Regions from separate parts of the Homo sapiens genome. Here regions 2, 3, 4, 5, 6 and 7 are each linked to region 1. The links come from fine-mapping of genetic effects on gene expression. A gene starts in region 1. Each other region holds a variant in brackets. All regions are shown on one strand. Distances are between the middles of the regions.

Region 1 (4,066 bases):
TTCCAATGGTGCAGCTGTGGAAAACGGTTTGGCAGTTATTCAAAACTTAAATATACAGCTGTTACCATAAGACCCCGCAATCCTACTTCTAGATATATACCCAGGATACTTGAAAATGTATGTTCACTGGCTGGGCGTGGTGGCTCATGCCTGTAATCCCAGTACTTTGGAAGGCCCAGGCGGGTAGATCACCTGAGGTCAGCCTGGGCAACATGGTGAAACCCCATATCTACTATACAAAAATTAGCCAGGCGTGGTGGCAGGTGCCTGTAATCCCAGCTACTTGGGAGGCTGAGACATGAGAACTGCTTGAACTTGGGGGATGGAGGTTGCAGTGAGCCAAGATCGCGCCACTGAAATCCAGCCTGGGCAATGCAGTGAGACTCCGTCTCAGAACAAAAAAAAAGAAAATATATGTTCACATAAAAATGTACATACTAATTTTCATGGCAGCATTATTAGCCAAAAGTGAAAGCAACCCAAGTGTCCACCAACCGACAAATGAAAAACAAAATGTCTATCCCTCCAGTAGACTGCTATTCAGCAATAAAAAAGAATGACGTTCTGACACATGCTACAACATGGTCAAACCTTAAAAACGCTATCCTATGACAGAAGCCAGACACAAAAGGCCACATATTGTATGATTTATTTATATGAAGTGTACAGGATCAGCAAATCCATAGAGACATGAAGCAGATGAGTAGTTGCGAGGTGGAGGGAAGAGAGAATAAGGGGGAAGGAGGGAGCTGAGAGTGAGTGGCTGCTTAAGGGGTATGGGATTTCTTTTTCGGGGTGATGAAAATACTCTGGAGTCAGTGGCAATGGTTGCAAATCCTTGTAAATAAACTTAAAAAACACTGAAATATATGTTTTAAAATGATGGGTTTTAAAACATGAAACAAAACGTGGACATCATATCTCAATAAATTTTTTTTTTTTTTTTTTTAGACAGAGTCTTGCTCTGTCGCCCAGGTTGGAGTGCAGTGGCGCAATCTCGGCTCACTGTAAGCTCCGCCTCCCAGGTTCATGCCATTCTCCTGCCTCAGCCTCCCAAATATCTGGGAATACAGGCGCCCGCCACCTCACCCGGCTAATTTCTTGTATTTTTAGTAGAGATGGGGTTTCACCGTGTTAACCAGGATGCTCTCAATCTCCTGACCTCATGATCTGCCCGCCTCAGCCTCCCAAAGTGCTGGGATTACAGGCATGAGCCACCGCGCCCAGCCCAAAGATTATTTTTAAAATGGACAAAAGGCTTGTGTAGTCACTTCACAAATGAGGATACTTATATGGTCAATAAACATATAAAAAGGTGCTCATTATCATTAGTCATCATAGAAATACAAAGTAAAACTACGATGTGATACAACTACTTAGCCATCAGAAAACCTAAAAAGCCTGACAACACAAAGTGTGGGCAAGGATGCAGAGACTGGAACTGCCTTTCTCTGCTAGTGGGAGTATAAGTCGGTATAACCACTGTAGAAAACTGGTTGGTAGGAGCTACTAAAGTGAAACGGATATAGTCTATGACCAGGCAATTCTACTCGTGCATACATACACCACAGAAAATAATGCTTATTTCCTTAAAAAAAAAAAAAAAAAAAAAAAAAAAAAAAAAAAAAAAACATAAATGTCATAGCAGCTATTCATAGAAGGCCTAAACTTGAAAGACCCAAATGTTCACCAGTCACAGACGAAACTGTGAAATGAGCATAGAATAAAAAATAACTGATACACACAATGTGGATGTATCTCAGACTTACAACTAAAAACCTCTTTCTAACCCCATAAGCTGTACTCAGAGGCTTATGTTGCCATGTGTCACCTGGATCAAATTTTAAAACTGACTTAGTGATTTTAAGTATGCTTAATCTCTTTCCTGATGCCAATATTAATGTAAAAAATATTGAAATATTTCAATTTGAAATATTTGAAATTTACTATTTCAAAATAAATTCATGTGTATTGTAGAAAAATTAGATTCTACGGATTAACAACAACAAAACCCCTCACCCATGCTCCCACCGCACAGAAAGACCTGCTAACACTGTGCCCTGTACTCATCTGGATGCTTTTCTGAGCATTTCAAAAGCTGGAGTATTTTAACCGAATGTCAGCATGCACATACCTTCCAGAGTCAGCACTGGGAGCCACAGAGCAGATGGTGAGAGGTGAGGACCAGCGCGCAGCTTGAGGTGTGAAGCACGTCTCCCACTGGCTAATCTCCTTATCTTCTCTGGAGTGCTGCTCAGCTTGCTTCCTTCCTCCACAGCACTTCCATGCTCCCTGCTGGGCACGCACTGCCATCTGCATCCCTCACTCACCCCTGGAACCTGCCCAGCCCCTCTGTGGAGGGAGGCCTTGGCAGGTTTGACCTCTGTGTCTGCGCCCACTCACTGAGCAGCCCTCACATTCACCTGGGCCACATGTTCTTAACATTTCTCTATTTTGGTCTCCTTGCCACTGTCAGCTTTGTAGAACTGATCAAGACTGTGGGATGAGTGCCTCCCTTTCCCCATTTTTCCACACATAAACTCCTCAGCCTCCACAGGTCTCCCTGTCCCCAAACATGACCTACTTTTTCCCATGGTTGACTCCCCACCACACACACACAGTCCTCCAACGGGACTTTGCTCCTTCAGTTCTCTTCCCACCTCATCAGCAGTAGGATGAAGGCAGGGATGAGGAGGATGTGGCACCTGCCCTCTGGGGCTCACAGGCCTACAGAGGAAATGGGCAGCATTTCTGGCTTCCAGTCCAGGGTAAGTGCTATAAAACAGGCATAAATCCTGAGTTATGGAAGCCGAAAACCAACAGTGATGGCTCCTCATGGTGTGGGGAAGGTCTAGAAAGGGCATGGAGGCCGCAGCTCAGGATCAGAAACCCTGCCAATTCTCTGCCAAGTAGCCCCTCATTCTGACAGTGTGGAAGCGCCCTGGAGACACAGCCTAAGCCAGCACTTATGACATATTTACTTCTTCTCTAAACATTTTAATATACTTTAAATGAGATATTATGAATCTATAAAGATTCTAGCATCTTTCAGTATGACCGTAAAGAAAGGCATACAACTTGTACACTTAAGAGACATGTCATCTCCTCGCAATGAAAGAATCTGACCCAATTCATTTGGTAATTAATTTTATTGATTAAAGTATTACAAAGTTCTACTTTTCATTTTTTCATGTACAATGTATTGAAATGAACTAAACTCAATCACTTATAATATAAAAAGACATTATTATGTATTAGCAGGGTGATGCTTCATAATCATGTATTATTCCTACCTCTAAGACACCAGTCTGTATTATAGAATCACAGCTGTCACCTGTGACTGTCAGAAACAGAAGGTGCAATTGGGATTCTTAGGTTGGTGACAGAATAGCACTGGATCCACAGGCCAGAGACTAGGAGTGCTTATCAAATGAGGTTTTAGGCTCTGAAAGGAAGGAATGAGAAGGTGTGCCGGGACAAGGAATAGCCAGTTCCCATAAAACTTGGGAAACGTAGATTTCTCAAAAGTAGGGTCCGACACAATTTTTTAGTTACTTTTTGAGAAAATTTAAAAATAAATACATTGAAATGCTGATTAGAGAGCGAAAGTAATTTAGGTTGCTTTTTCAATCTGAGGTTGTTTTAAAAAAGTTATTGTATGAAAGGTATTAAAAAATAAAAAAATTATGGTGAATATGTTGGCAGGTAAGATTTGAAGTTCTTTCAGAGAAGATAAACGGCATGGCAATTAAGCTTTAATAATATATTAGTTTTAAATAGATATACATATAAAAATACTTCAAATGATTCATCTCGGATTGAACACTCTTAAAAATTAAAAGGGTCAGCCGGGCGCGGTGGCACACGCCTGTAATCCTAGCACTTTGGGAGGCTGAGGTGGGCGGATCACGAGGTCAAGAGATCGAGGCCATCCTGGCCAACATGGTGAAACCTGTCTCCACTAAAAATACAAAAATTAGCTGGGCGTGGTGGCAGGTGCCTGTAGTCCCAGCTACTCAGGAGGCTGAGGCAGGAGAATTGTTTGAACCCAGGAAGCGGAGGTTGC
Region 2 (4,066 bases), 21 kb after region 1:
ATTTTAGTGTTATTTATGTCTTATTGCCCCCTTCCAATATGGATCAGTACATTGTAATTCCCAGAAACGGGTACTTTTTAACATAACTGTAAACTGGTCATTTCCTAGAAAAAGAGAGAGAGAGAAGGTTTTTGTACTAACTCCACTGTGGCTAATGGAATTTCCACATTCAGGGTAGCACCAGGTCTGGCTTAGAACTAAGTCAACCACCCTACCCACACCCAAGATTCCAGAATGCGCCAAGCATTACCAGAGAACTCTTTTTACAAAGCAACTATCCCTGTAAGCAAGGATCCAGGTCTGCTTAAAAAAATCTTCAATGCTTAGATACAGTTATTTACTCATTGATCACTTATGGAGTTTCCAGGAAAAATAATCAGTATGCTAAGAATGATTTTAGGATTATGTTTCAGTTGGAAAGGAAATTAGCAATAAACTTTATGTTACTGTTAGCCTTCACAAAATCCCGCCCTTTGTCATTGTCACTTTTGATCATTATCCACTTGTCACACCATGAAGAGATGATTGCTCATAAAGAGTTCAGTTGGTGACTTCTGATATGTATACCATACACACATGGTCTGTGTCCTATGGTAGGTTCCCTCTTGCCCAGTGGTAAACTGCTGGCTGCCTGCTTGTCCAGTCATTCCAATAAGGACACCGACTTAGGGAATGGCCAACAGCAAGTTGGAAGGAACCTGGGTCCCTTCATGATCACGTGGAACAGAGCCACCTTCCAACCTAGATGGCTCATTATGGAACCGCTATCAGCAAAGAAAAATCCTCCATCTTCTTTAAGACACTGTATATTGGGCAAAGGGAGGTGGCAGGTGTCTCATAGCTACAATAGCTTAACTTTACTAAGTAACTAACCTAACTAATACACAGTTCATCTTCATTTGTGGACTGGGAATAAAAATACACAATGTGCTTTTAGGAAGAAGAATTATATAATTGCCAAGGGAAGAGATGAATAATTTTTCACTCCATTTCATTTCTCATGATTTACCCTTGTTACAGAGATAGAACCTATACCCCTCACAGCTGATAACTTTACACCCTAAGGGGATAGCAGTGGTGGGGCAGTGGCTACCAGGTTGCAGTCTCGCCGGTAAGGCTTTGAGGCCTATGGCAGATGCTCATCCATTTATCTTTCCCTAACAGTGTGGCTCCCTTCACTAGTTGGGCCTCAAACTTGTTTGAGGAATCATGTGGCTCACCACACAATGGAGGCTCAGGATGGGCAAAGACTGGGCATCTGGTCATTCCCATAGATGTGATACCAGGGGCCAATGTCAAAGGCATTTCCTACCTTAACCACCTGCTTGATGCCATTAATGGTGCTGTTCATGAGGGACTTCAGCATGTTGGCATCATTCAGAGAGTCTGCGTAGCGCACACACATGAACAGGATATGAGCCGGCAGCCCGGGGATCATGTTCACCACCACGCCACGGGGCTTCAAGTCTGAAGCAGAGAGAGCCAATGAGGATTACAGCTGACAGGTCAGCTCTTCTCCTAAGGAACTTGTGACTAGGGGCAGGGGCTTGTTTGCTTTTCTGTGCTTGACACAGTGCCTGAATGTATATGGATTTATTTCCTCTTTGAGGAATTCCATCTGGCTCCTTTCTTGGCACAAGATACACAGGTGTCACTTGTTCCTCTTCTTGTTTACAAAGGACTTTCTCTTTCTTAAAAGGTTGAATAAGAGACAGAATCTTTATTTTTCCCTGGTGTGGAAACCCTGGATTTCAGACCCCCATTGTAAGAAAGAAACTCCATTCCATGCACCCCTACTCCAAGCGCTTTGATGAGGATGGCGTACAGTGTCCACAGTCACATGAAGCTGCCTTGAATAGGGAAAGCAGGCACACCCAGTGCAGCAGAGGATGCCTGGCTGGCCTTGAGGAGAACAGAATGGTGGAAACGCTCAGTGGGGATGAAGGGGAGAGAGAAATCTTACAAAAAAAGTTAAGATAAGCAAACAAGGATGTCCCCTGGCTGCAGGAAGACAGAAGAACAAAGAAGAGGCTCACACTGCATGACACCAGTGATGAGGGGAAAGAAAAGGGTAGAGGTGCTCATATGAGCCAAGGGGGTCACTCGCAGAAGAGGAAGGAAGGCTACAC[G/A]TTGGCTTTCTGTTTTGAGATCTTGGGGCCAGCTGACAGGGAGGCAGATTTTTCTCCCTATGCCAGAAAACCACGTGGAAGGTCACAGTGAAGACAGTGCAGTAAGATTGGTTCTATGACCACCAACTCTTGAGCATGCACATGGGACATTCCTGTAACTGAGGCATGGCTGGGAAGCCCCATCACATTGCCCGCAGAGAAATTTCTCAGAAGTCAAATGGAGCACAGAGCCACAATTGCTTCCATGATGGCTCCTGTGCTGAGACACAAAAATGAGGTGATGTTTCTCTTCTACCCTGGTCCTACAATTTGGAAAAGGTCAGGGCAGTGGTTCTCAACTGAGGACAGTTTTGGCCCCCACAGGACATTCGGCAATACCTGGAGATATCTTTTATTGTCATCACTAGGGGTTGCTGCTGCCTTCTAGTGAGTAGAAGTCAAGGATGCTGCTCCATCCTTTGTTACTCCCCATTCACAGAGTTAACAGGTCAACAGTGCTGAGGTTGAGAAACTCTGGGCTGGGGGAAGAAGCAGTGGAAGAAAAAGTAGAAAAAGGACCACCCCTGCCCAGGACTTTGGCACTGACTGATATGCAAGTTCTCAAAGAGAAAGCAAAAATCCAGAGTTCCAGGTTTCACTACCAAGAATGAGGTTCTGAATGAGCTTGGCCTCGTCTTCTCTCTTGTATTGCAGCATTCCAAGGTACTCCTTGGGTCCTGAGGACGAGTGCACATCATTGGCTGTAGACAGAGGCAAACAATCAGCTAAATACACAAAAGCAGCTTTCACAGGTCTCACAATGTGACTACTCTCCTACCCCATTCTGGCTGGTTTGCACGTAAATGTCTGTGGCTTTCAGATACATTAAAACTGTACTGTATTGTATCCTGAAGAATTTCTCCAAGTAGTGATTCCTCTTTATGAGTACATCAGTGAGTACAGCTGCTGCTGAAAAGGCCCAATTATCCTTTGAAGAGCCTTATGAGTGCCTGATATGTATCCAGCACATGGTAACAGGAAAGAAATCCAAGATGTTGCCTTGTCTTCAAGATGCCAATGCTACTGTGAAAGAAGACTTGTGAAACATTTGGTGTGCAAAATACCAATGTGCATGATCCTTACTGAGACAGCTGTATTAGTTTCCTGTGGCTGCTGTAAAGTTATCACAAACATAGAGGCTTAAAACAACACAAATGTTTAATCATACAGCTCTGGAGGTCAGAAGTCTGAAAGGTGAGCCAGGGTGGTGAATGATGGTTCATTCATTCATCCCAGCAGTGGGGATGCAGCGGGGGCTGGGAAGCACAGACCTGGGCCCTGCTCTCATGGGGCAGACTGCCATTTGTCATTTATTACTGAAGGAAAGGGATCCTCAGTTTGCTTGTGGACATTTCAAATTTGAGGTGAGAGTTGGATAAGTAAGAATAAAGCTGCTCTTCAAAGAGATGAATATAGAAAAAGAAACAAGATACAGCCTTGGCAGTAAGGCTGGGAGGAAGGGGAAAAGGTAATAAAGAATGAAAGAGTGAGAAATGTGAGCAGGAGCTGAACACAGAAAAGTTCAGTGACAGAAGCAGAAGGAGGGAAGAAGGGAGGAGGGTCCCTTTCACAGAGGCTCACGAGGATGCTTTATGTGTGCCATGCAGTCCATGTTCAGGATGTCTGCTTCTTAGCTCTCTACTTTTCTAATAGAAATTTGGATACTTACTGATCCTACATATGTAACAGGGAGAGAAGGTGAATTTCAAAGCAGTAAATTGAAAAATTGTTCACAATTTCATTTTTTAAAAAAGGGAGCTAACAGAGGAAGAGGTTAATGTGTTAATTATAGGATGTCTCTTGCGAGTACATGAATGTATCTGGTATCATCTGAGTGGGAGGGAGCTGTCTTCCTGACCCAAAGGATCCTTTCGTTAGCCCAGCACTAGGTCACAAAC
Region 3 (4,066 bases), 160 kb before region 1:
TCTTCTTTCAGAAATGTAAATGAAATAATGTAGATTGCCTGCTTAAAATGGTTTCATAGTTTTTCTTTGGTCTTAGTTATGAGATTCAGAATCCTGCCTCATGTGTTCCTTCCTTCCTCATTGCTACCTCCTTTCCTTTGCCCTTTGCTGTGGATGCTGTGGCTACACTGGCATTTCTTTTGCTCCAAAATGCCAAGTTTTATCCTGCCTTAGGTTTGTTCAATTTGTTGTTTCCTCTGTTAGGAATGCCCTTCTCCCATCTCTTAGCAGTGCTGGTAGCTTCTTATTCAGGTTTCAGCTCCTCAGAGGGCCATTTCCCAGCTACTAGGCCAAATCTGAATTTGTTAATTAGCTAACATGTTTGTTGGTCTTTCCTTACTAGAATGCGAGCTCTTCGGAAGCAGAAGAACCTTGTCTGTCTTATTCTCTACTATATTGTCAAACAGTGCCTGGCACATGCTAAGTGCTCAGTAAATTTTTGTGGACTGTATAAAATGTTTGATTCCTTTAAATCTCAGAAGGGAAAAACTGCATAATAATTGCATTGTACCCAGTGTAACGTGATTCTGGACTGGGTCCTTTACCTCCCAAGTACATGATTGAGATAATTGCAGAAACTTAAATGGGGCCTGATTATCAGATGGTAGTACTATACCAGCGTTAATTTCTTGATTTTGATGGTTGTGTTTTAGTTATGCAGAAGAAGGCTTTTTTTTTTTTTTTTTTTTTTTTTTTTTTGAGGCAGAGTCTCACTCTGTTGCCCAGGATGAAGGAGTACAGCGGTGCAATCTTGGCTCAGTGCAACCTGCGCTTCCCAGGTTCAAGGGATTCTCCTGCCTCAGCCTCCCGAGTAGCTGGGACTACAGGCGTGTGCCACCATGCCCAGCTAATTTTTTTTTTTTTTTTGAGACAGGCTCTCAGTCTGTTACCCAGGCTGGAATGCAGTGGCGTGATCTCGGCTGACTGCAGTCTCTGCCTCCTGGGTTCAAGCAATTCTCGTGCCTCAGCCTCCTGAGTGGCTGGGATTACAGGCATGTGCCACCATGCCTGGCTCATTTTTTTGTATTTTTAGTAGAGACAGGGTTTCACCATGTTGGTCAGTTTGGTCTTAAACTCTTGACCTCAAAGGATCCACCCGCCTTGGCCTCCCAAAGTGCTGGGATTACAGGTGTGAGCCACCATGCCTGGCCTTAATTTTTGTATTTTTAGTAGAGAGACAGGGTTTCCCCCTGTTGGCCAGGCTGGTCTCAAACTCCTCACTTGAAGTGATCCGCCCACCTTGTCCTCCCAATGTGCCGGGACTACAGGTGTGAGCCACTGCCCCCAGCCAGAAGAAGGTCTTTGTCTATAGGAAATATACTCTACTCAAAAGGTTGGGGAGTGAAGGGAGATATGTACTATACTTGTCAATAAAAAAATAAGTTACAGTGAGAGATAATGGAATTTGGTTTACAAACCTGGTTCAAATCCTGGCTCTCTCATTCATGTGTGATCTTGAATGTGTTTTTTAAGTTCTCTAAAATAAAGATTATATTTTGCCTATTTTGCCTATTGGGAGGATTTAGTGTAAGGGTATATGTCCAACACAATGCTTCACACATAATACAGTCTCAATAAAACCTTGCTTATATTCTTGTAAAATGTTGACCAGGCGTGGTGGCTCACACCTGTAATCCCAGCACT[TTGGG/T]TGGCCAAGGTGGGAGGATCGCTGGAGCCCAGGAGTTCAAGACTAGCATAGGCAACATTGGGAAACCTTGTCTCTACCAAGATAATAAAAAATTGAGCCGGGTGTGGCACCTTGCACGGTGGTCATAGCTACTCAGAAGGCTGAGATGGTCCACCCACCTTGAGCAATGGAGGTGGAGGTTGCAATGAGTCATGTTCATGCCACTGCACTTCAGCTTGGGCAAGCGAGATCCTGTCTCAAGATAAATAAAATAAAAATTTCACCATTTTATTTTCATGTTCAGTGCTGTGACTTTCTTTATAATATGAACAAATAATTTTTTTTTTTTGAGGCGGAGTCTCGCTCTGTTGCCCAGGTTGGAGTACAGTGACACGATCTCGGCTCACTGCAAGCCCTGCCTCCCGGGTTCATGCCATTCTTCTGCAGCGCCCACCACCACGTCTGGCTAATTTTTTTTGTATTTTTAGTAGAGATAGGGTTTCACCATGTTAGCCAGGATGGTCTCGATCTCCTGACCTCATGATCCGCCTGCCTCGGCCTCCCAAAGTGCTGGGATTACAGGCGTGAGCCACCGTGCCCAGCCCAACAATTTTTAATTTTTTTTTTTTTTTTTTTTTTTGAGACAGAGTCTTGCTCTGTTGCCAGGCTGGAGTGCAGTGGTGCAATCTCGGCTCACTGCAACCTCCGACTCCCTGGTTTAAGCGATTCTCCTGCCTCAGCCTCCCGAATAGCTGGGATTACAGTCATGTGCCACCATGCTCAGCTAATTTTGTATTTTTCATAGAGATGGGGTTTCTCCATTTTGGCCAGGCTGGTCTTGAACTCCCAGCCTCAGGTGATCCATCTGCCTTGGCCTCCCAAAGTGCTGGGATTACAGGCGTGAGCCACTGTGCCTGGCCGTGGATAGATATTTTTAATAGACTTTTTATATTTTCGAGATATTTACCCTTTCTGAGTTTTTTATTCCTCTCTGTAGATCTGGGGTTAGTTACATTTGGTGTATTTTTCTTTCATCCTAAAAGACTTCTTTTAGCATTTCTTGAAGTGAAAGTCTGCTGGAGACAGATTTCTATCCAGTTTTTTTAAATACTTTTTTTCTTTTTTTGTTTTTGACACGGACTTTCGCTCTTGTTGCCCAGGCTGGAGTGCAGTGGCACAATCTCGGCTCACTGCAACCTCCGCCTCCCAAGTTCAAGTGATTCTCCTGCCTCAACCTCCCTAGCAGCTGGGATTACAGGCATGCGCCACCACACCCAGCTAATTCTGTATTTTTAGTAGAGATAGGGGTTTCTCCATGTTGGTCAGGCTGGTCTCAAACTCCTGACTTCAGGTGATCTGCCCGCTTCAGCCTCCCAAAGTGCTGGGGTTACAGGCGTGAGCCACCGCGCCCGGCCTCCTTTTTTTTAATGGAGACAGGGTCTCACTATGTTGGTCAGGCTGGTCTTGAACTCAAGTGATTATCCCACCTCACTTCCTGAGAAGTAACTGGGATTACAGGCATAAGCCACGGCACCTGGCATCTTTCTACTTTTGTCTTTTCTTTGAAAAGGTCTTTTGAAGGTTATTTCTCTTAGATACAGAATTCTGGTGTGATGGTTAGTATTAAGTGTCAACTTGATTGGATTGAAGGATGCCTAGGTAGCTGGTAAAGTATTGTTTTTGGGTGTGTCTGTCAGGGTGTTGCCAGAGGAGACTGACCTTTGAGTCAGTGGACTGGGAGAGGAAAACCCACCCTCATCAGTGTGGGTGGGCACCATCCAATTGGCTGCCACCGAGGCTAGAACAAAGCAGGTGGAAGAAGATGGGATAAGCTGGCTTGCTAAGTCTTTTGGCTTTCATTTTTCATCCGTCCTGGATGCTTCCTTCTGTTCCTCCTGCCCTTGAACATCAGACTCCAGATTGTTTGGGCTTTGGACTCTTGACTTAGACCAGTGGTCTGTCGGGGGTTCTCCAGCCTTCAGCCACAGATTGAAGGCTGCACTGTTAGCCTCCCTGCTTTTGAGACTTTTGGACTCAGATTGAGCCACTACTGGCTTATTTCTTCCCCAGCTTGCAGACGGCTTGACGTGGGACTTCTTCGCCTTGTTATTGTGTGAGCCAGTTCTCCCTAATAAGCTCCCTTTCATATATACATAAAACTTATTATTTCTGTCCCTGTGGAGAAGTGTGACTAATACATCTGGGTTAATAGGCTTTGTTTTTTATTTTATTTTTTCCTTATTTTCTTTTTGGGTTGATAGTTTTTTTTTTCTTTTGGTACTTAAAACATATTCTATTGTCTTCTGTTTTTCATTGTTTCTAGTGATAAATCAGCTATCATTCTTATTATTCTTCTCCAGTATATACTTTATCTCTTTTCCCTGGTTGCTTTTTTGTTTT
Region 4 (4,066 bases), 52 kb after region 1:
TCAGAAGTGACCGAATTAAGATTGTGAAATCTCTGAGACCAAACTTTTGTCCTATCTCAACCCCTTTCCCATCCACTCACAGGATGGATCAGGCACCCCTTATGTTGAAGTGAACACTTATTGCTCTCCTCCCTCCTTGAAAGAAAGAAAATTATTTTTTTGCCGTATGAAACTCATCTCATCACCCTTTTCTGAGTCTAAAGCTGCTGCCTCTAAAAGAGCCATCTCATTGTGCTTTGTATTAGTCAGTGCTGGAGAAATCTTGAATAGCTTATGTAGAAAACTTGTTCAATTTTATATTACTTTGAATTCGTTTCTTTGGAGTTGGACACCCTGGACATCCCATCTGGCTGTGAGAGCTCTCTACAGTCTGTGGGGTGGCAGTGGGCTAATCTTTTTTTTTTTTTTTTTTTTTTTTTTTGAGACGGAGTCTCACTCTGTCACCCAGGCTGGAGTGCAGTGGTGCAATCTTGGCTCACTGCAAGCTCCGCCTCCCGGGTTCATGCCATTCTCCTGCCTCAGCCTCCCGAGCAGCTGGGACTACAGGTGCCCGTCACCACACCCGGCTAATTTTTTGTATTTTTAGTAGAGACAGGGTTTCACTGTGTTAGCCAGGATGGTCTCGATCTCCTGACCTCATGATCCACTCACCTCGGCCTCCCACAGTGCTGGGATTACAGGTGTGAGCCACCGTGCCCAGCCAGTGTGCTGATCTTTTAAAATTTCTTTCCCCAACCCAGTCTCTGCTTTAGGTGAGGTCTGTTAGGTGTATATCCTGTCTGTTAGGTGCACATTATTGGCTTAAAATGTACTTTCCTTTGGTGTGGTCTCTTTGGGGCCAACTGGGAGAAAGAGAAACCAACAGTGCAACTGGTGTGTGTGTGTGTGTGTGTGTGAGAGAGAGAGACAGGGTCTCCCTCTGTCACCCACGCAGGCTGGAGTGTACTGGCATGATCATAGCTCACTGCAGCCTCGAACTCCTGGGCTCAAGGAACCCTCCCATTTCAGCTCCCTGAGTAGTTGGGACTACAGGCATGAGCCACAGCACCTGGAAGAATCTCCTTTCTGGCTTGGCTGACACTTTGTACAAAGTGAGGTTGCCCATAGTGAAGTCTTTCCCTGGGCCCTGTTTTGTTCTCAGTAAGGAAGGCCCGTACACCCTCCCTTCCTCTAGACAGAGGTTGGCCTCACCTTTCGATACCTCCTCCTTGCCAGGAATCCTCGGCTGTAGGCCTGCATTGTGATGGTGGCCATGCGAATCAACTGATACAGGCTGCGAACAAGATACCCGCGGCAGTGCTTCTGAATGATTATGGCTGCCCAAGCTTCTTTTAAGGCCACTGCAGTAATAGCTTTCCTTGGTTAACAAGGATGAAGAGTGAGTCTGTTACCCACAGAGCATCAACTTCCATAACAGAGCTGCAAGCTTGGCTAGCATGTGTTTATAAGGAAGGTTCAAATATTTTACACCTCTCCACATTAAACTCTGTGGGCAGTTTATTCTAATGCCTACTTGAGGCCAGTCCCCAGTTCCCTGTCCTTGAGGAACCACATGGGAACTTTCACTCTTTTCATTCAGGCCAGTCGATTCACCTCCACTCAGGTACCCACAGAGACGATGATGAGACTGTGCACTGGTGCTGCACTTGCTCAATCACGTACTATTTACATATCCCCCACGGCTGCTTTCATGACACAGCAGCAGGAGAGACTGCAAGCCCCCAATGCCTTAAATAGTTATCATCTCGTCCTTTACAGAAAAAGTTTGCTGCCCCTGTCTAAATGACTAGAGGTGAAGATAATGTCCTTACCTTTAGAGTTTACAACCTCATGTACAGAAAGACTAACAAATGGCCAAGAAAGAGGAAAAATAAAATACCACCTAACTAGATCTGTAAGTGAGAGGGGAAAAAAACAGTTATTCTGCTTGGGGAAAGTGGGTATGTGAGCCAGCCCCCAATGCAGTAGGATGTCTGTACACAGTGAAGGCTGGAAAAGGCTTTCAGGATAAGGGACCAGCATGAGTAAAGGCATGGAGGCTCTACAGTGCCTGAAATACTCAGAAAAGGAGTTTGTTTGGAATCACTAGAATAAGATGGATGAAGAAAATTAGACGTCAATGAGGTTAGAAAAATAGATGTGCACCATTTGTTATTTTAAAAACATATTTGTTGAACACCTTCTATGACAGCCACCATGCTAGGTCTGGGTATGAATGACCAGACAAGTGTGGCCCCTGCCCTCATGGAGCTTCCATTCTTATGAATGCACCCAGGCTATGGAGGGCTTTGAATATCACGTCAGAGACTGAATGCTATTCTGTAGGAAACACGGGCCTTAAAGGCAGGTGCAGGGCAGTGTCTCAATCAGGCTCTGATGTAGGAAGATGGGAAGGAGGTGGGAGGTGGAGCACGGTGCCATCAGAGTGCAAGGCAGGTGATGCCGTGAGCCTAAACTGGGGGCAGGAGTGGGATGAAATGAATGGGATAGGCAGGAGGCCAGCAGGGCAGGATGATCAGGCTCTGGTGAGCCCCAAATGGGAA[G/A]GGAGCGTGGCCTTGGCGGGTAAGATAACTGTGATTTCCTTCCCCAAAGACTGCTGTTATCAACTGGGCACAGAAGCACAGGAGGGCAAGCCAGCCCAGCTGTGTGATCCATGCCACACCACGCTGGTCATGCAGAGAAGGCCAGATGCTGCCACAGTTCAGCCTCCAGCTCAGGAAGAAGTCAGGCTTGCAGACGCAGCCTGACCCTAAACGCCGGCCTTCTCAAGCATCCTCACAGCATCCCAAAGAAGGGGCAGAGCAGGCAGAGAGAAACACAAAGTTTATCTAGGGGCACCCTGGTCTTGTGCTTTCCAGCAGGTACACCAAAGCCCTGGAAGTCCCGGAATGACCGTGGTCCTTCAGTGGGCTGGCAGGGTTGTGTGGACTCTCAGGACCCCTCGAGGCAGGTAGGATCAGCGCAGCTGGTGGACCACCCTCCCCTCAGCCCTTGGCTTGGCTGGGGCTGCTGTGGTCTTCCTGCTTAGGGGTTCTGTGATTGGTTTGCTGCCAGGCCTTGCAGGGACCCCCTCTGCCATGGTGCACCCCACCTGTTGCTGGCAGGCTGGTCGCTGGCTATTCTTGACATCTGTCCTTTGGATCTTCACTAGGGCCTTGCTGATCTTATGCATTTTCAGTTCCCATAGGAAAGGGGCCCCGGGCCTCTCCCTGAGCTTCCGGAACCCTGACTCTCCTTAGTAACACTCTCACCAGCGCTTCCTCCCTGCAGGGCCCTGGGTGTCGGCTCACCACACAGACACCAGGCAGAGCCAGCACTACCTGCCCCTGAGAGACGGACCTTTCTTGCCCTAATGCTCACGACCACAAAGGGGACCCATGCACGTCTGCACCCTGGGTCACAGGAGAAAGGTCCCTTGTCCTTGATGAGTCCTCCCCGCCGGAGATGATCAGCACAGAAAGCCCCACAGTTCCACATGTGTTCCTTGATTCCAACATACCTCACAGTTTGCTGACCCCGGAAGTACTGCTGGATTATCAGGGCGGCTCGTCTCTCTCGGAGGAATTTTTTCCTCTGGAGCCAGCCACGCATGTGCTTTTGTACCATAACACAACTCTGCCTCAGTTTATCCAATCGAAGTTTCTCTAAATAAGCCACTTGTCCTGCTCTGAAGAAAATTTTGGTTTTACCAAACTGGTACTGATTAGAATCCTGGAAGAGAAAAATGATATAGTTAGAATTAAAATCTGTCAGATTTTCTATAATACAGTATTTGGAAAAGAGCTTTAGGGATTCAAAGGTGCCAGAAATATTGTGATTTTGACATTTAAGGCAGAAAACTCACATCATGATCTAGAAATGTATACTTTGAGTTGTTTGTTTAAAATTACCCTGGAGGAAGAAATGGGACTTAGGCTGAGGAATCCATTTGTGGGTGAGAAGGGGAGTGAGTGTCATTTGCGGCGATTCTCAGTTGGGCTGCCAGAGAACTTCAGCCACTCTCTCGTGGTCTCCACATTGGAGTAGAAGAAACTGGGGAAGTTTGGTTTTCTGTCTCCATTTTGGG
Region 5 (4,066 bases), 94 kb before region 1:
ACCCAGCCCCCAAGGGAATGCTTAATTACATGGGGACTGTAGTGCTTTGGCTCTGGGTTCTTACTGACTACCGTCACCCACATTTTCAATTCCTTTGAGTTTCAAATATTACAAAAGGCATGGTTTAGAAACGTGACACTGTTAGCTACCTGAGCAGAACTTGGAACAGCAGCTGGATGGCAAACAGTGCCAGATGGAGGCCTTAGGGTGAGAAGCAGCTGAGTGATGAGGGTTAGAAGCAGCACCATTTGGCTGTGTAAGAGGCAGAGGGAGGATGGAGCGCAGCTGACCTCTGACCTAGTCTAGGATGGCTGCCCTGCCCTTCAGCTGTGGTGTTGGCAAGAGAGGGTGGGTGGCCGTGTGGTGTCAGGAAAGCCAAGTGGCCAGAAGTCACCCGTCCTCTCTATTTTAAAGGCACAGGTGTTTCTTCTCCAGGTCTTGCCTGGTGAGTCCTTTCCCTTTCTCCTTGAGAATCCTGAGGTTTCAACATGGGAGGAGGTGAAACCCTCCTACATTGCAGGTGGGAACATTTAATAACGTGGCCACACTTCACTGCCTGACTGCCGCCATCATGGGTCGCATGCATGCTCCTGGGAAGGGCCCGTCCCGGTTGGCTTTGCCCTATCGCCACAGCATCCCCACTTGGCTGAAGTTGACATCTGATGACGTGAAGGAGCAGATTTACTAAGTGGCCAAGAAGGGCCTGACTCCTTCACAAATTGGTGTGATCCTGAGAGACTGACATAGTGTTGCACAAGTACGTTTTGTGACAGGCAATAAAATCTTAAGAAATCTTAAGTCTAAGGGACTTGCTCCTGATCTCCCTGAAGATCTCTACCATTTAATTAAGAAAGCAGTTGCTGTTCAAAAGCATCTTGAGAGGAACAGAAAGGATAAGAATGCTAAATTCCATCTGATTCTGATAGAGAGCTGGATTCACCACTTGGCTCGATATTACAAGACCAAGCGAGTCCTCCCTCCCAATTGGAAATATGAATCATCTACAGCCTCTGCCCTGGTAGCATAAATTTGTCTATGTACTCAAGCAATAAAATGATTGCTTAACAACAACAAAAAAACCCAATAACGTAGCCACTGTGAAAAACAGGTTAGTAGTTTCTCAAAACATTAAACAGAGTTACCATGTGACTCAGCAATTCCACTGCTAGATGGAATTAAAAACATGTCCACACAAAAGCCTAAAGTTCATATCAGCATTATTCATAATAGCCAAAAAGTGCAACAACCCAAATGTTCATCAACTGATGAATGGATAAACAAAGTTTGGTATGTTCAAATAGCGGAGTATTACTCAGCCATAAAAAAAGAATCAAGTACAGACATATGCCACAATGTGGACAAACCATAAAAACACTATGTTAAATGAAAAAAGTCAGACACAAAAAGCCATGTGTTGTCTGATTCTATTGATATGCAATGTCCAGAATAGGCAAATCCATAGAGATAAAAAGTAGGTTAATGGTTGCCAGAAGGTGAGGGAAGGGAGAAATTGGGAGTGACTCCTAATGGGTATGAGGTTTCTTTATGAGATGACAGAAGTGTCTGGAATTAAAGATGATGGTTGGATAACATTGTTAATATATTAGAAATCATTGAGTTGTATAATTTAAAATGGTTTTATGTTATATAAATTTTATCTAAATTTTTAAATTGCAAAAACCATGGAAGAAAAAACCACCTTAAAAGATACTTTATTTATTTTTACTTTTTGAGACAGAGTCTCGCTCTATCACCCAGGATGGAGTGCAGTGGCATGATCTCGGCTCACTGCAACCTCTACCTCCCAGATCCAAGCAATTCTCCTGCCTCAGCTTTCTGAGTAGCTGGGATTACAGGTACGTGCCACCACGCCCAGCTAATTTTTGTGTTTTTAGTAGAGGTGGGGTTTCACCATGTTGGCCGGGCTGCCCTCAAACTCCTGACCTCAGGTGATCCACCCGCCTCAGCCCCGCCAAAGTGCTGGGATTGCAAGGGTGAGCCACCACGCCTGGCCAAAATATACTTTAATAAAAAGTTGTTATAAAAGTAATGCCCAGGCTGGGTGTGGTGGCTCACGCCTGTAATCCCAGCCCTTTGGGAGGCCGAAGTGGGTAGATCACCTGAGATCAGGAGTTTGAGACCAGCCTAGCCAACATAGTGAAACCCCATCTCTACCAAAAATACAAAAATTAGCTGGGTATGGTGGCACGCAGGAGAATCACTTGAACCCGGGAGGTGAGGGTTGCGGTGAGCTGAGATCGTGCCTCTGCACTCCAGCCTGGGTGACAGAGCAGGACTGTCTCAAAAAAAAAAAAAAGAAAAGAAAAGAAAAAAAGAAGAAGAAAAATAATGCCCAGCAAATTTATTTCAGCAATACTTTTGATTTCCAAGAACTGTAATGACAGAAATTAAAAAAAAAAATGGCTGGAGATTCTTCCAAATCTGAGATATCCATGTTTCCTTTAGAGTTTTATTCTAGTTTCTTCTTTGATTATGCATCCTTGAGAGTATTCTTT[G/C]TGCTGAGTCTGTTACTTCTCCCATGCAATTAGTTTTCTTTCAATATCTGGTGATCCTTGGGGTCAGTTAATAGCTAGAGCTAAGATGTGTGGGGTGGAAGATTGGCCCAGCCAACTGCTGGGGACTGCTGCTTCCCATCTTGGCATTGTTCCATCATTTTGTAAGAGAAAACTTTCACTTTTTTGAGAGGTGCTTTTTATTGCCTGAAGTGGGCTAGAGATCCCTCTAGCTGGGTTCTATTGTCAGTTTACTCCCATTGACATTAAATCTGGAAATTCCACATTGCTGATGGGACCCCCCCCCACCTCCAGTGTGTTAATGCTACTATTGATTATTGAGCTGTAATAGATCTTTTCAATAGAATTTGAAAACAGGGAGGACAAGATATAATCCAACTGAAAAAAATGAGCACTACTTATGCTTTAAACTAAAGCTTTAAAACACATATTCAATTATTTGCAAATACATTAAAAAAAAGAATAGTTGATTTCCTATTATCAAATTTGATACAAGTAATTTTCTGATAAAAATGATAATAAAGATAAAACACTAAGTTTTATCTCATTAAATGTAATCTTGCTAACAAAATAAAAATGTTAAGGTCAAATGAATACAGATGTATAAAAGTAAAATGCAGCTCAGATGTTAATACCACTGGCCACTAAAAGGAACCAGGACTCCTTGGAGAAAGGGTTTCCTCTTTCACTTATTTATATTAGTTAAAAAAACAAAACCATGAGCCAATGCTATCAGTGGGTTCTAATCCTTTCCTATTATCTATTTGATGCTCACATTGTCCCAAATTTGGCCAGTGGAGGCCTCTTACAGAAAAGTGGGTAAAGATAAAACACAACCATGAAATTCAAATTTCATTCAACTAAGTAGCTTTACAACTGGTTACAAGAACACCACCTTTAAACATATCATCCTCCATGTTTAGAAATCTAAATAAAATATCCAATAAATAATACATAAGGAATAAAAGGACAACTCATTTTTTTAAACTGCTAATAACCATGCTGCCTAATACATTATTAGATGTACTTAATGATACTTGAGTGAGGAAGAACCATTTTTTTTTTAGGGAATTTGGGTGTATTTGTTACAGCACAAATATAGAAATGGCCAACACTTGTTTCCTAAAGTGTCTTAAAATAAAATCCAGTCTCTTCCCATTTTGAAATACTAATGACAGCTGGTAGTTTTCATATGAGTGCATTTCAACTTTACAACCACTGTGAGGAAGCTAAAGTCCAGATAATTTAAACCTTCAAGACCAAAGACCCAAGTAAGTGGTTGCGCAACTACCGAACACTATCAGATCTCTTTGTACATTTTCCCCAGAGGAATCAGATAACTTTATGATTTTGATTTAAAAAGAAATGTAACTTTCAACCATATTGAAATGAAGGGGTCTTACCTCTCAAAGTACAAAAATCTGAGCATTTTTAAAGACCAAAAGTCTTGTGTGCAAGGTGTCTAAAGACGCAGATACCCTCCTCTTCCAAAGTCAACTATTAAAGCCTGAGTCATTCTTCTATCGGTAACA
Region 6 (4,066 bases), 80 kb before region 1:
CAAAGGAGAAACACCCTGAAATACACAGCGGTGAAAAGGTAATTAAATTAGCATATCCTGTGATAAGAATGCACTGCAACAGTCCAAACAGTAAGGCAGAGCTGCATGTTCTGGAGAGAAAGACCTCATAAGATTAAGCCAAAAGAGCAGGTCCAGTTAAGTTTTATAAAATGCAAGTATAATAATGAGTGGGAAGGCCTGCAGGGAATCATGCTGTCAACCACCTTGCAGGTGGGTGACAGTTTGCAGAATGGAAGGGGGAGAGGAAGGAGGGACTTTGAGCTTGTGCATTAAGTGTTGGGGAAAAAAAAAGTCAAGCACCGTTACATGTATATTTAAGGAGACAATAAAAACAAATTGTCATCAATTCTACTTACTCCTAAGAATGAACGCTTATTGAATTAGGAAAGACAACTAAGTTTTTTTTAAAGGTACAAATTTATTAAAACTTTGCAGTTAACAATTATTGAAGAAATTAGTATGTTAACTATAAAAACCTAGAAGTCCCAGGAATTAGATTTCAAAGGATTTGGTTTCAAAGAATTCCTTATAAGTGATTTTAACATTACATTCTTTGTTAAACTGGGACTTTTTCTACTTTGGGGATTATTTTGCCCCAGCTGTGGCCATGTTTAAAATTAGTCAGCAGCACATGAAGTTGTGGAGAGATGAGAGGTTCGCACTCTTATCCAAGTTTTAGCAAATAGCACTGTATTTCCCATTTAATGGAATGCAGTTTCTTCTGCGGTTCTTTGGCATAAAGAGGCTCTAGACTCCCCATTTCTTTCACTCAAGGAAGAGCCATTTGCATTCTTGTCCTCACACCTGAGTACTTGTCACAAGTTAAAACACTGGCCAAATCACCACCTCAGGACTCCTTGTATGCATTCAGATAAAAACGTCTGGGGTGGGGGAAGGTGCTTTCCCTCAGTTCTTGTTCTCACACATCTGTCATTTAGTTGGTCACAGTTGGGCAGGTAGAAGCGGGTTAAAAGTTTTAAAACTCATAATAATCGTGTCCAGAGATAAATGAAGGCTGTTGTTAACAAGCATGACAGAAAAGCCTGGACCAGCTGTTTTCTCCAAAAAGCCAGTGGAAAGGGGGTCCTGAAGAAGTGACAAAAGCCATCCTACAGGGGGGAGAGAGAAAAGTTAGATTGCCTCATGATGCTGAGAACCTCACTCAAAACACGCAGGAACTTCCAGATTAAACAGCAAAGTAAAGTTTGGATTTAAAAAGTAAAAGGAAAGGAAATTCTGACCAATACACATCCAGTAATGAGGAGCCCCTGAGGAGTGAGGATTGGTAAGTCTAACAGAGTGAACAGAAGCAAGCATTTAACTTTGTCACTTGGTGCAGGAACACTCATATCTTGACTCAAAACCAAGAGGAAGGTAGCTTATTATGCTCTTTTCTGAGCAAAGAAGAGATGCCTTTTGGGAAACTGTCAAGTCACTAGATTGAAAAGTTATCACCTGACACTACAGCAAGCACCAACCCCATTTAGGAAGGGAATTGAACTCCAGGCTGTGGCATTTTAACTGCAATGGGCAGAGACAAGGGTGAACTATGTTTACCCAATTTGAGAATTTCAGCTTTTTTTTTTGAGACAGAGTTTCGCTCTTGGTGCCCAGGCTGGAGTGCAATGGCAAGATCTCAACTCACTGCAATCTCCACCTCCTGGGTTCAAGCGATTCTCCTGGCTCAGCCTCCCTAGTAGCTGGGATTACATGCACCTGCCACCGTGCTTGGCTAATTTTGTATTTTTAGTAGAGAGGGGGTTTCACCATGTTGGTCAGGCTAGTCTTGAACTCCTGGCCTCAGGTGATCCACCTGCCTTGGCCTCCCAAAGTGCTGGGATTACAGGTGCGAGCCACTGCACCCAGCCAAGAATTTCAGCTCCTTGGTGTTAAGAGATTATTCTTTCATCAACAGTGATTAGCCAAAAACAACAAAAAAAGGCTTCAACGGCCCCTTTCCAATTCTAATCTCTTCTTCAGGTACAGAGAGCCCGGAGGGGCCAGATGCCGTATTGAGACAGGGCTCAGGTGAGGCTCTTAGGCACGCAGCTGAAGGGAGTTCACCGGCCCAGAGGGTTGAAGACCAACACTAACATTATGAACAAGGCAGGAGTTCCTGCTAACACACCTCCCACTCCCTTTCCCTTCTCAGATAGAACCCAACTTGTCACTATAGAAAGTCTAAATGGGGGCCAGGTGAGGTGGCTCACGTCTGTAATCCCAGAACTTTGGGAGGCTGAGGTAGACAGATCACGAGATCAAGAGATCGAGATCTTGGCCAACATGGTGAAAGCCCATCTCTACTGAAAAC[ACACACAC/A]ACACACACACACACACACACACACACACACACACAGTTAGCCAGGCTTGGTGGGGCGCGCCTGTAGTCCCAGCTACTCCGGAGGCTGAGACAGGAGAATCCTTGAACCCGGGAGGCAGAGGTTGCAGTGAGCTGGGATCCACCACCGCACTCCAGCCTGGCCACAGAGCGAGACTCCGCCTCAAAGAAAAAAAGAAAAAGGTCTAAATGGAAACTGCCCCCAGGAGGCTACATTTCGGATCAAAAAACTTGCTGGTTTTAATAGTTTGGCTATAGGTATCCGATAACATGGGCCACTTCAGTCATTGAATCAACGCCAATAAGGTGGTGGGGAAAGAAATGGGGTCTAGCTCAGAGCCCCCAGAGGCATGCAGTGGGCTCATCACCAGGTGGCTTTCCTTGATCATCAGCTGCAGGGCAAGGGCCTGTCCCTCTAACCTTGACCACAGAGATGAAGGCTTGCAGCTGAAAGCCAGGGGCCTAGAACGTTCTCACCGAGGACTGGGTGCAGAGGACTAGAAATTAAGGAACCTTGGGTCAGCGCCACCACTGGGCGACCACCACACTCCACAACCTCTCTGGCCAGGCTGAGAGGCGTAGGGGGTTGTGATCAATGGGTCTGAGTCTCTCCAAAGGCGCATTTAATAGGCGAAGGAGAAAAACACCCCACCTGGCTGGGGCCCCGCCATTGCTGACTTCATTGGTTGGGGATTTCTATAGGAGCAAAACGTTCAGACCTAACGTGGGTGCCCCCCTAAAAGTCCCCGACGGCTAAGGCCAGGGCAAGGTCCAAGTGAGCAGACCTAAGCCTGCGCAGCTGCTTCGGAACGGTTCACGGCCGTCTAAGAAGGCCGATTTCTGCCGGCCTTTCTGCCAGGGGAGGAGAAACCCCAGACTTCACAGCGAACGTTCCAGGCCCGCTGAAACGAGCCTTTCTGCTTTCACGAAACCTCGTTCCAGGGGCCTGGCGCGGTGGGTTCCTCACCGTGCCAGCCTCGTGGGCGCTTCCCGGCTGCCCGTCCCGCCCCGTGTCCCGGTGTCCGCCGCGTGCTCACCCAGCCGCCCTGAGCCTGCAGCCAGGCGCGGTGCTGCCCCATGAGCCGCGAGCTCAGCAAGGCCACCAGGCGCTGGCAGTCCCGGGCGACGTCGCCCTCCTGCTCCTTTAGCCGCGGCTGGAAGCCCCACTTCTTCCACCGGGCGGTCACCAGCGGCCCTCTCTCCAGCAGCGTCCCTGCGAAGGTCACGAGCGTCACCACTCTGCCCCAGGTGGGGCCGGGGCTGTCGGAGAGCACGGAATCCGCCATCAGCGCCACCAGCTCGAAGCGGTTCCCGGGGTAGCCGAGGTAGGCGGAGAAAAAGGACCGGTGAATCTGCCGTAACCTGGCGGCCGCGGAGCGCAGCACGGCGGCCTCGGGCGTGGATGGCGCCGGCTCGGGGGTGCCGGGTTCCCGGGCGCAGTACCCCAGGTAGTCGGCCAGCAACAGCTCGGTGCGCTCCCGCAGCGGGTCGGCCATGGTGGTGCGCTCCCGCAACTGGTCAACCATGGTCCGGCCTCTGCTGGGGGGCCGGGCCTTCGCTGGTTTTCTTGGCCCGGCCGCGCCTCCCCCAGGGTAGGGCTGCCGTGCCCCGCCCCGGCCCCCGGCCCCCGGCCCCCGGTATATTGTTTTTCAGGACTGAGAGAAGAGCCTTTGATGGGAATCCCACCTGCACCTGTTCCAGTCCCCAAG
Region 7 (4,066 bases), 72 kb before region 1:
AAGACATCTGCCTAGCAACTGCCTGTCCAACCTCGGACTGGTGTGACCTTTGTTATTGATATTTGTAGCCAAGGATAATTATTTCAAAACCATTATGTAATCCTCCTCATTTTTTCCTTTAAAAACCTTTGTTTTTCTTTTTTTTTTTCTTTGTTTTTTTGAGTCAGAGTCTCGCTCTGTCGCCCAGGCTGGAGTGCAGTGGTGCCATCTCGGCTCACTGCAAGCTCTACCTCCTGGGTTCATGCCATTCTCCTGCCCCAGCCTCCCGAGCAGCTGGGACTACAGGCACCTGCCACCACGCCCAGCTAATATATATATATATTTTTTTTTAGTACAGACAGGGTTTCACCGTGTTAGCCAGGATGGTCTCGATCTCCTGACCTCGTGATCCACCCGCCTCGGCCTCCCAAAGTGCTGGGATTACAGGCGTGAGCCACCGCGCCCAGTCACCTTTGTTTTTCTTTACCTCCTGGAATATGCACACAGTTTACTACAGCACACATATTCCTGTTGCAATGCCCTACTTTTGATTAAATATCTTTAGCGAGCCTGTCTTTGTTATTTAGGTTGACAGGAACATTCAAAATTCTCTCTTCTAGCTACTTGAAAATACACAGTAAATTATTGTTAGCGATAGTCACCCTACAGTGCCGCCAAACACTAGACTCCTATCTTGCTGCAAATTTGATTCCATTAACCAACTCCTCCCCACCCCCTGCTGCATCCTTTTTCTAATGACATGAACATATTCAGTCATTTCATTTCTTTCACTGGGGTTGGCCCTGTGGCAGCCCACGGGAGGCCAGAGTCCCCTGTGGAGACTGACCAACCCTGAAGGCCAGCCTGGCTCCAGCCAAGTGCTGTCTAGAAGCAGGAGTCTGTGGTATGTCTGGAAGAGTGACCCAATTCTCTCCGGTCACGGATGAGAGGGCAAGTGGTTTAGCATGGCAATCCTTACAAAGGATCCACAGAGACAAGATTCACTCGCGGCCTCCCCAGTGGGCCTCCGGCTCAGATTTCCTGGCCCACCTCAGGCCCGCCCAGTCCAGATCTCAGGGCAGGGCCCTGAAGGCGCAGTGCAGGAACCTGCCATGGGTGGGACGATTCTTCTCAGCAGGCAAGTTTGGGAAATGAAGATCTACAAATCCCCACTCAATCAGCTCTTCCAGGCTTGGGAATGGCCTGGGCCTCAGCCCCAGTCTTCTACCCCACCCACTGTGCCTTCCCCAGGCTTCCAGGCGTCCTCTTTTGAAAGGATTTTCAGGTCACAGGCCTCAGCTGGTCCCTAGCCCTTCCGACTGCCTCTCTGGGACTTCCTCCACCGACCGGGGCTGTCCCAAAGCCTCCTCTGAAGGCTTTCCCTAGGGTGGCTCTCCTCAATCATCCTGTCACCTCTTTCTTTGCCAAGCTCTTCCAAGGCCCTTAGTGGTTTCTGGGAGGTCTCACACAGAGGGGCTGGAAAAGGGCTCATTAGCCCAGATCAGCTGTTCTCAAAGCAAGATCCAGGGCCCCCGAGGGTCCCTGAGACCCTTTCAGGGGGTCCTCACGGTCAAAACTATTTTCATAATAATATTGACACTTTTTTTTTTTGTATGGGTGATTTTTTTATTTTCATCCTCTCAGGAATTTTCCAGAGACTACTGGCATGGGAGAAAGATCACCTTGATGGCTAATGGAACGTGTGCATCTGTATTCTTGTGTTTTATAACTTTTTCTCAGTCTTAATTTCTAATACAATAAATATGGATAGATACAATCCACAATGAGCAAGTTATTTGGGGTCCTCAATAACTTTTAAGGGTGTAGGCTGGGCACGGTGGCTTACACCTGTAATCCCAGCACTTTGGGAGGCCAAGGTGGGAGGATCACCTGAGGTTGGGAGTTCGAGACCAGTGTGACCAACATGGAGAAACCTGGTCTCTACTAAAAATACAAAATTAGCCGGGCGTGGTGGTGCATGCCTTGTAATCCCAGCTACTCGGGAGGCTGAGGCAGGAGAATCGCTTGAACCCAGGAGGCGGAGGTTGAAGTGAGCCCGAGATCGCGCCACTGCACTCCAGCCTGGGCAACAAGAGCAAAACTCCACGTAAAAAAAAAAAAAAAAAAAAAGTGTACAGAGATCCTAAGACCAAAAAGTTTGAGAACCACTAGCCCAGACGAAGCTCTAACTGATGAGAATTACTAATTTGCTATATGAGTGGGGGCTGCCTATGGATGGGGAGGAGATGGGGAGAAAAGAAAGAGCTGGGGGAAGGGGAATGGGGAGGAGATGGGGAGAAAAGGAAG[T/A]GCTGGGGGAAGGGGAATGGGAAGGGAGGAGGAGGGAGGGAGAAACAGCAGAAGGGGAAGGAAGGAGACCAGGAGAGAGGTGGAACAGGGAGACAGAGGAAGAGGAGATGAGGAATGGGGGAAGATTGAGAAGGGTTAGAAAAAGGAGTCCGGATGAATGAGGAGAGGGGGAGGGGGCAGAGAAGAGGAAAGAGGAGATAGGAAGGAGAGAGGAGGCGATGGGAGGGAGGGAGGAGGTGATGAGAGGGAGGGAGGAGGGGTGACAGGAGGAAGGGAGGAGGAGATGGGAGGGAGGAGGAGATGGGAGGGAGGAGGAGATGGGAGGGAGGAGGAGATGGGAGGGAGGAGATGGGAGGGAGGAGGAGGAGATGGGAGGGAGGGAGGAGGAGATGGGAGGGAGGGAGGGGGAAATGGGAGAGAGGGAGGAGAGAGGGAGGAGGAGGGGAAGGGAAGAGAAAGAGGGAAGATAGGTGGAGGGAGAAGGGAGGGGGGCAAATAGGAAGGGGACTGAGGAGGACACAGGGAGAAGCTGGGAACTAACCCTTCCTGAAGATGTGCTAAAGGCTGAGGTAGGCACTTTACATATTTTAGTCCCATCCCATGTTACAAATGGGGAAACTGAGGCTGAGAAAAACTCAGATATTATCATATATTCTGTGACCGTGACAGAGGTGGGTGTGAATGAAGGCCAGCCCTCTTATGTCACCAAGGCATCCCTCTAACTCACAGAGGAGTCCCAGTATCGGTGGTGCCACCTTTCAGCCAGCTGGCCTGGCAACTATGAGAGCCCGGGACACAAAGGCCCTTACAACCCTGTGCTGTTTTAAGCCACTTATAACCTAGAGAAGGGTGCAAAGGAGGTAGAAGAGCGGGAAGAGGGCAGTGGCAACGGGATGCCCACCTCTGGCTCGCCTGGGAGAAGAGGGACGGCTGCCAGGGCCCCACCGGTGAGAGGCTGACCGCGCATTCTAAAGCACTGGACTTGGCTTCATGTCACAGATATTTCCCATAAATACCCATCACCCACACCTTTCTGCCTGAACTTTCTTTTTTCTGGCCCAGGAGGGGGCTGCCCAAGGCTCTACACCCCTGGGGGCCCATCTGTTTGGCCCCTTCACCACAATTGGTTTGGTAGGTTTATCCCCAAGTCCTCTGGAAAAAAGAAAAGCTGATTATAAAATGCACTCAGCATTATTTTCAATCTGCAAAATACAATCTATCCCATGGAGCTTACCCCTGAGTCTCCACATGCTGTCACATAGTCCAAATCAAGTATCTCATCAGCAAATCCCGACAGCACCCACTGCGAGAGCGCATGCTCACAGCGAAGGAGGCTTCCTGCCCATGCGGGGAGTGGAAGCATTCTCTGGAATACTTTCCCTGGGCCCTTAAAGTGGCTTTTTGGATTGGAAAGTCACAGTCTACTTTGCACATATCCTGAAGATGCTCTCCACCTCTCCAAACATGGAACCTGGAATGTGCTTCCCTGGGCCACCTTTCCTTCCTTTCTCGTGCCTTCCTGCACTTCTGGGAGCCGGAAGGCACAGTGCAGAGACAAAAAAAAAAATGGCTGTGGGAGAGAGGGTTGGGGATGCCACCACAAGGAGGCCAGCTGCACCAGGGGCCACTGTGGGACATTCTGGAGCAGAGCTCAGGAATCCCATGGTGCCCTGACCCCTTCAGCACCTGGCAGGAGCTGGCCAGACACTGGGCCCATTTCCTGAGCCCCTGCCCAGACTGGAATCTACTGGGACTAAAAAGCACTCTCTCTGGGCTCCCT

Direction of the effects. Positions count from the first base shown, and alleles are read on the strand shown. Sizes are in standard deviations (SD) of each study's normalised expression. Not every link is listed here.
For the expression in NK cells of the gene that starts at base 2,205 in region 1, A is the low allele of the variant in region 7 and T is the other (large effect, 0.82 SD a copy in Gilchrist 2021).

The links. PIP is the estimated chance that this variant, and not a neighbour inherited with it, causes the effect.
Region 2: its variant is the best candidate, but not a certain one, in a credible set for the expression of GNB5 in whole blood (TOPMed, PIP 0.71).
Region 3: its variant is the best candidate, but not a certain one, in a credible set for the expression of GNB5 in stomach (GTEx, PIP 0.76).
Region 4: its variant is the best candidate, but not a certain one, in a credible set for the expression of GNB5 in whole blood (INTERVAL, PIP 0.73).
Region 5: its variant is the best candidate, but not a certain one, in a credible set for the expression of GNB5 in prefrontal cortex (ROSMAP, PIP 0.62).
Region 6: its variant is the best candidate, but not a certain one, in a credible set for the expression of GNB5 in lymphoblastoid cells (TwinsUK, PIP 0.64).
Region 7: its variant is the best candidate, but not a certain one, in a credible set for the expression of GNB5 in NK cells (Gilchrist 2021, PIP 0.85).

What each region holds. Positions count from the first base shown.
Region 1 is chr15:52,189,188-52,193,253 of GRCh38, forward strand. GNB5 (G protein subunit beta 5) reads right to left here and starts at 2,205. Exons shown (of 13, transcript NM_016194.4): 1 at 2,135-2,205. MYO5C (myosin VC) reads right to left here. Exons shown (of 41, transcript NM_018728.4): 41 at 3,135-4,066. All of the region lies in intron 2 of CERNA1 (competing endogenous lncRNA 1 for miR-4707-5p and miR-4767), which reads left to right. RefSeq lists an enhancer at 2,303-2,802.
Region 2 is chr15:52,210,418-52,214,483 of GRCh38, forward strand. MYO5C (myosin VC) reads right to left here. Exons shown (of 41, transcript NM_018728.4): 34 at 2,771-2,869; 35 at 1,313-1,467. Among named protein-coding and RNA genes, the nearest start is that of GNB5, 21 kb to the left of the region's middle. The variant G/A (reference allele first, on the strand shown) is at 2,130.
Region 3 is chr15:52,029,904-52,033,969 of GRCh38, forward strand. The region is part of intron 1 of MAPK6 (mitogen-activated protein kinase 6); the gene reads left to right. Among named protein-coding and RNA genes, the nearest start is that of MAPK6, 13 kb to the left of the region's middle. The variant TTGGG/T (reference allele first, on the strand shown) is at 1,684.
Region 4 is chr15:52,240,857-52,244,922 of GRCh38, forward strand. MYO5C (myosin VC) reads right to left here. Exons shown (of 41, transcript NM_018728.4): 19 at 3,500-3,711; 20 at 1,192-1,357. Among named protein-coding and RNA genes, the nearest start is that of MIR1266, 34 kb to the right of the region's middle. The variant G/A (reference allele first, on the strand shown) is at 2,544.
Region 5 is chr15:52,094,724-52,098,789 of GRCh38, forward strand. The region is part of intron 1 of LOC112268150 (a long non-coding RNA gene); the gene reads right to left. It also overlaps the pseudogene RPS13P8. Among named protein-coding and RNA genes, the nearest start is that of BCL2L10, 16 kb to the right of the region's middle. RefSeq lists a silencer at 37-237. The variant G/C (reference allele first, on the strand shown) is at 2,517.
Region 6 is chr15:52,108,844-52,112,909 of GRCh38, forward strand. BCL2L10 (BCL2 like 10) reads right to left here and starts at 3,932. Exons shown (of 2, transcript NM_020396.4): 1 at 3,395-3,932; 2 at 420-1,130. The coding sequence starts at 3,883. The coding sequence ends at 1,005. RefSeq lists enhancers at 601-650, 1,541-1,610 and a silencer at 3,779-3,938. The variant ACACACAC/A (reference allele first, on the strand shown) is at 2,333.
Region 7 is chr15:52,116,782-52,120,847 of GRCh38, forward strand. GNB5 (G protein subunit beta 5) reads right to left here. Exons shown (of 13, transcript NM_016194.4): 13 at 1-4,066. Among named protein-coding and RNA genes, the nearest start is that of BCL2L10, 6.0 kb to the left of the region's middle. The variant T/A (reference allele first, on the strand shown) is at 2,287.